Linked DNA regions of Homo sapiens: region 2 is reported to be linked to region 1. The links are microRNA targets in miRTarBase. Many come from high-throughput screens and were not tested one by one. Region 1 holds a microRNA gene; the other region holds the end of a gene's coding sequence.
Evidence for each region. Region 1 holds the annotated microRNA hsa-miR-6785-5p (UGGGAGGGCGUGGAUGAUGGUG, at 882-903, opposite strand). A microRNA usually pairs through its seed, bases 2 to 8, with sites in the 3' UTR of a target mRNA and lowers its output. Matches are read on the target gene's strand: a 7mer-m8 pairs with bases 2 to 8, a 7mer-A1 pairs with bases 2 to 7 and ends in A, and an 8mer does both.

Region 1 (3,184 bases):
TCCAGTGCCACGGGTGCAGGAGCAAACCTGGAAACATTCATGATACAAACTCCCCTGTTCAGAAATGGGTCTGGCTTTAGCCCCAGGGACGGGGGCAACTACAGCCACCACAGCCAGTGGCTCAGAAGGGAGAGTTCATGCCCAGCTTAGTTTCAAACTGCAGCTTCTGTCGCTTCTGGTAGCGGACTCGGACCCTGGTGGGGCAGGAGATTAAAGTACAGGTTGGCAAAGATCCTTAGACCAGGGGCCGGGGCAGGACACCAGAGGAGGAGGGAGGGATGGGCAGCGGAAAGGTGGGGGAGTGTCGCCAAGGGAGTAACAGGTTTAGGGAACATGCCTGAGCCCAGAGGGAGGCGCCCTGCTGACAGCTCACCGAATCTCATGTAGCTTCACGATCTCATTGGTCACCACCACAAGGACCAGGGACAGGCAGCCCAGGAGCCATGTCAGCAGGGGCACGTCCTCCAGGCCAAAGTGGACGTGGCTGTCCCTGTGTGTCCACAGCTGCAGGTCCACAGCCGTCTGGACCACCTGACCCAGCAGCCTGCAGGAGGTGGCGGCCCCGTGTGAACCCGACACTGCTTGCTTCCTTCCCTGCTCTTCCCAGTACAACAGTTAGCTCAGGCAGGGTACAGTTAAACCACTGGCCCCGGTCCCGCCCTCCGATCCTAGCCCTGCAGAAGGCCCTCTCCTCCCCAGCCCACACTCCGCCCTCCATCCTAGCAATACTCACACCACAGGCACTGTCACGGCCCACCAGAGGTTGGTCAAGGGGCTCTTTCTCCACAGGGGCTTGGTGCGATGCACATGGGTGATGGAAATGAAGACTGGGGAAGGTGGGGCGATGTGGGGGTCAGACTTCCACAGTGGGGCTCCTCTCCCACCATCATCCACGCCCTCCCAGGGAGCCCTCTCACCAGTGTGCAGGACAATCAGGGCGGCCGTGAGCTTCTGAGCCGACAGCAGTCCATTGGCAAAGTCCTCAAACCAGGCTGGAGCCCTGTCGTCGTTGCTGCCAAAGTGAGGCATGGGCTCAGCCCCTCTAGGGCCGCAGGGAGGTAGGCTGGGGTGGGGAGGGAGGAAGCCTCGAGGCGAGGCAGGCGATGGGTGGATCTCTGGGGCTGGGACCCACCTGGGCAGCATGACGGAGGAGCAGTTGGTGAGGTTGCGGTCCCGGGAGCTGTCACAGAAGCTCTGCAGTGTGAAGCCAAAGCAGATGAGGCAGGAGCTGATGGTGAGGCTGAACTTGAGCAGGAAGCAGAGCAGGAAGTAGTGCTGGGTCTGCGGGAACAAGGCCAGTCACTCCTGGGGCGCACAGCCCCTCTGCCGGCTGCTCCTAGCTCTTCCACGTATTCAACGGGCTCTTAGTAAATGGTCAGGCCTGGGGGGATAGGGAGCTCAAGCCCCAGCAAGGGTCTTTCCCAGCTCTGTGCCACTACCTCCTCTTTGATCTGGGGGAAGACTAGGAACCAAGTGCCGGAGTTCTGCTGGAATCCCCCATCCAGAGCCTTCCAGATTAGCCCCTCTCTCCTCCCCCAATCCTCAGTCCCTTCCATGCTCACTTGCAAGGCTCACAGGGTCTGTTTTGCTTACCTTCTTGGGAATGGACTGGAGGTTTTTCCCCGTTGCCATAGACATGATGGAGCTATGGGGGGGCTTCCCCAGCAGAGAGATGCTGAAAAGCAGAGATCAGGTAGAGGGATGGTGACAATGACCCTCTGTCCCTCAATTCTCATAGAGGGAACCTCTAGGGAGTCTTGCGCGTGAGGTCGAGTCTGGTGAGGGGATGGAATAAAACAAAGGCTGGACGGCAGTGGCTCACACCTGTAATCCCAGCACTTTGGGAGGCTGAGATGGGCAGATCATTTGAGGTCAGGAGTTCAAAACCAGCCTCGCCAACATGGCAAAAACCCATCTCTACTAAAAATACAAAAATTAGCCAGGCATGATAGTGGGTGCCTGTAATCCCAGCTACTCAGGGGGCTGAGGCAGGAGAATCACTTGAGCCCGGGAGGCGGAGGTTGCAATGAGCAGAGATTGCACCATTGCACTCCAGCCTGGGTGACAGAGCGAGACTCCATCTCAAAAAAAAAAAAAAAAAAAAAAAAAAAGACAAAGGGGGTTCCCTCCATGCCTCCTGTACCAGAGGAGGTGAGACCTGAGCAGTTCCAGAACCTTGGGCTCCTGGGGCTGCACAGTGACATCCAGACACCTCCTGCTTAGGCATGGGGTGTGGGGAAGATACATGGCATCTCACCTGAGCAGAGGGTAGCAAAAGCAGGACAGCCACAGGATGTCGGTGGTACTCAGGAGTGGCGGCAGCTGGACCAGGCAAGAAAGGAACTAGACCAGGAAAGAAGCCAAGAGCCACAGTTCAATTCAGGCAAATAATAAGGGCATAGGAGCCCCCGAGCTCCCTTGCCCTGGGCCCAGATAGATGCTCACATCCTGCCAGAGGGAACAGGGGCCGGAGGGAATACTCTTCTGCCAATGAGGGTCAGCTCAAAAAGCCCAGGGGCTTCACAGAGGCTCTGGGGGGACCCCTTGACTGTACTGCTAACCCCAGCCTCCTTCCTCAGATTTTCAGCTGGCCCCTGAGTGAAGGGGTGAGTGGCACGGGGGCAATGCCTGTGCGGGCCCCACCTCACCTGGATGACCACAAGAGTCAGCTGGCACTGCAGCAGGAAGAGGAAGCACTTACGGATGCCATAGGTGGCATGCCGAGCCTAGGGACCAAGAGGGACAGATTATGGCCTGGGTCTACCTGGCCTCTCCCAGGCCCAACAGCTGACACACTTTAGCCAAGAGCCAGACGCCCAGGATGCTTCTACGAGGGGAGCAGAGGCGAATGTAACTGCCTGGGAGAGCCCGCTCGGAGGGCTGGGGAATGAGGTCCCCGGGTTCAAACAGGTCCTTTGCTGCTACTCCCACCCCAGGCGGGTCCTGTCCTGCGTCTCTCCTCCTTTGCCTGCCGAAGCACCCACCTGTTCGATAAGCCGGATGATGCTGATGGTCTCCTCCTGGCGAAAGGTCAGGGAACAGGGCAGGCTGTTGAGCTGCCCTGACAGCTGCAGGGGAGAAAGGCCATCCGAGGCCTGGGCCATGCTGATGCTGGTGGCGTAGCCAAAGGTCTCCCAGGAGCAACGGGATGGGTACAGGGGATCCAGGGCAATGCTGCTCAGGG
Region 2 (3,000 bases), not on the chromosome of region 1:
ATTAAGAAACAGCAGCATCATTACTTTAATCCATCATTTCGTTAACCACCATATACCTGTTGATCATTTGTATTGTCATGTGCTTTTTAAAAATCTAGATGAGAAATATTCGATTATCTGACTTCACTGAATCCTTGAAAAAAATAAAACGCAGCGTCAGCCCTCAAACTTTAGAAGCGTACATACGTTGGAACAAGGACTTTGGAGATACCACTGTTTAAGGAAATACCTTTGTAAACCTGCAGAACATTTTACTTAAAAGAGGAAACACAAGATCTTCAATGAACGTCATCGGCTACAGAAACAGCCTAAGTTTACAGGACTTTTTAGAGTCTTACATATTTGTGCACCAAACTTGAAGATGAACCAGAAAACAGACTTAAACAAAATATACAATGCAAATGTAATTTTTTGTTGTTTAAGGCCTTGCCTTGATGGTCACAGTTATCCCAATGGACACTAAGTTAGAGCACAACAAAACCTGATTCTGGTCTTCTTTACCAATATAATCATAATGTAAATAATAATTTGTATATTGTGTTGCAGATGAAAGTATTCCAGGAACAGTGAATGGTAGAAGACACAAGAACATTTGTTTGTTTGTCTTCTGATGTTTTTTCTTAAAATAGTAATTTCTCCTACTTTTCTTTTCTACTGTTGTCTTAACTACAGGTGATTGGAATGCCAAACACTCTTAAGTTTATTTTCTTTTTTCGTTTTATAAATTCAGTGTGCCAAATGAAACTTTTTTCCTAAGTAACTGTAATAGGAAAAAGTTTATTTTGAGAGTTTCTTCTTCATAAATCTACAGACATTAAACAATTGTTGTGTTCTTTTTACCTTTTATTTTTCTATTACCTTGCTACCAAACAGTTTAGATAGCAATATAATAGCAAAAAAGCAAATATGGTAAAATAGAGAAGGTTTGAAGGTTTGAGTTACTCTGTCATATAACATGTAGATCAGTCTTCATGTGACCTGCAGTATTTTTTTTTCTAATGTATTTGTCAGAAATCTGTTGTAGACTGTTAACTTCTTCCTGATGGAATTTATTTTCTGCAAGAATTATTCTGATATTTAAGAGAGCCAATTTTAACTGCTGTGAAAATGTTTCCAGTGCAAGAGAAGGGAAATACTAGGAACTAAGACATTTCTAATTTATTGCTTATTACTTTCTTAATTTTACAGGATAATTATAAGCAAGTGGAACTACCATCTTTTATTCTTAATAATTATTAATCCCTTCAATGAAACTTTAAAAAAACTGAATTTTTATACATGGCATACATTTTTCTAGTTCCTTCTGCTTGCTTTATTAACTCAAAAGTTCTAGTTCTAGTCTGTTGATCTGCCTTTTGTTCTCCCAAAATGTACAGTAATTCCATTTGTTTGTATAAATATGCCTGGATTTTCATTATAAAAATGTCATTGTAGGGAGTAGAGACTCATATCATGGCCTTTTAAATATTGTAATAAAGGCAAATAGATATTTGCCCTTAGTTTACTGGTTAAAAGTTTGTTTACAGAACTTTTCTCTGGTGCTTAAATGATGCTATGTAAAATGTCATGAGTGGAAAGAATATTTGTAGTAGTAACAAGAATTTTTCATTTAGGAAAGATTTCTTAGGTTTTGAAAGAATACATTAAAATAAAAAACTTGCCCCTACTAGGTAAGAACTTTATAATGAAGACATACATTCTTCTTAATTTTACTCTTGCTCTTGTTAAAGATTTGTTTGAATATAGAAGATGCATGATTTCTGGGTTTTTTTTTTTTTTTGAGACAGAGTTTCGCTCTTGTTGCCCAGGCTGGAGTGCAATGGCGCAATCTCGACTCACCACAACCTCCGCCTCCCAGGTTCAAGCAATTCTCCTGCCTCAGCCTCCCGAGTAGCTGGGATTACAGGCATGCGCCACTACCCCAGCTAATTTTGTATTTTTAGTAGAGATGGGGTTTCTCCATGTTGGTCAGGCTGGTCTTGAACTCCTGACCTCAGGTGATCCGCCTGCCTCGGCCTCCCAAAGTGCTGGGATTACAGGCATAAGCCACTGCGCCCAGCCAGAAGATGCATGATTTCTTAGGATCATATGCTGTTTGTAGCCATAAGGTAAATCATGTCTCTTCCAATCATGACTTTGGAACTCCCTGAATAATAAAAATGAGAGTTGAGATAAATAGGGGAAAAAAAATTTTTTTCAAGCCAGAGCTATGCATATGTTAGGTGATGGGTAGTATCCCTTTAAGGTCTCAAACATTACAACATCAATTATGAAATACTGATAACGAAAGGTAGTAATGAAATATATATGATGAAAAGAATTGAGAAGTTCTAAATTAAGACATTTCAGTTAAGCTCATAAAATTTCATTGTTTTCATTTAAAAGATTAACGTTATTGATACTTGGATAACTGGCTAATCATATTAAAGGACTATGTGGTTCCAGCTCAACTTTTAATATATTGTCTCCTTTAAAACTATCATGGTTATAATTCTATTGGGAAAGACTTTTAGATAACAAAGATTTCAAATGTTAAAAGAGATAAAAGTCAGGTTAATACTATCTTAAACACTGAGTCAGAAAATCATTACTGTATAGAAGTTGCTTTCCTGATCAAGTCTGAACTTCAGCTAGTGCTAGAGAACTATTTTCTATGACTTAACTCTAACCAAGTTTTATTTTAAGCTGTTTCTTTGATAGAAGGGCCATGAAAATAGAGTAATGATATAGTAGGAGATAAGGGATTGGTTTGGTCTTTTTCAATAAAGATAGAAGTTGCTGAAGTTTTCTGAATTAATAATGACTTAGATTGTGACCTTTTAGATTCGGTGTTGAGCTCTGTGTTGTATTACTTCCTAAAAGATAATGCTTAAACATTAAGCATTAGTGTGCTCTTCATGTTAATATGGCAGAGTTTTGTAAACTAAATTAAAACTTACTGATATATTGGACTTTGAGCCAAGGGAAAGAATGAGTACTATCTTTCCAGATATCTTAAGG

Region 2: miRTarBase lists SPAST as a target of hsa-miR-6785-5p. Seed matches in the 3' UTR shown: 7mer-A1 at 1,851-1,857 and 7mer-A1 at 2,016-2,022.

Annotation. Positions count from the first base shown.
Region 1 is chr17:75,496,272-75,499,455 of GRCh38, reverse strand. MIR6785 (microRNA 6785) reads right to left here and starts at 908; the gene lies at 828-908. TMEM94 (transmembrane protein 94) reads right to left here. Exons shown (of 32, transcript NM_014738.6): 24 at 2,985-3,174; 25 at 2,649-2,726; 26 at 2,258-2,343; 27 at 1,594-1,675; 28 at 1,133-1,281; 29 at 918-1,012; 30 at 734-827; 31 at 374-544; 32 at 1-194. The coding sequence ends at 122.
Region 2 is chr2:32,154,276-32,157,275 of GRCh38, forward strand. It overlaps SPAST (spastin), which reads left to right. Exons shown (of 17, transcript NM_014946.4): 17 at 99-3,000. The coding sequence ends at 221. Among named protein-coding and RNA genes, the nearest start is that of SLC30A6-DT, 10 kb to the right of the region's middle.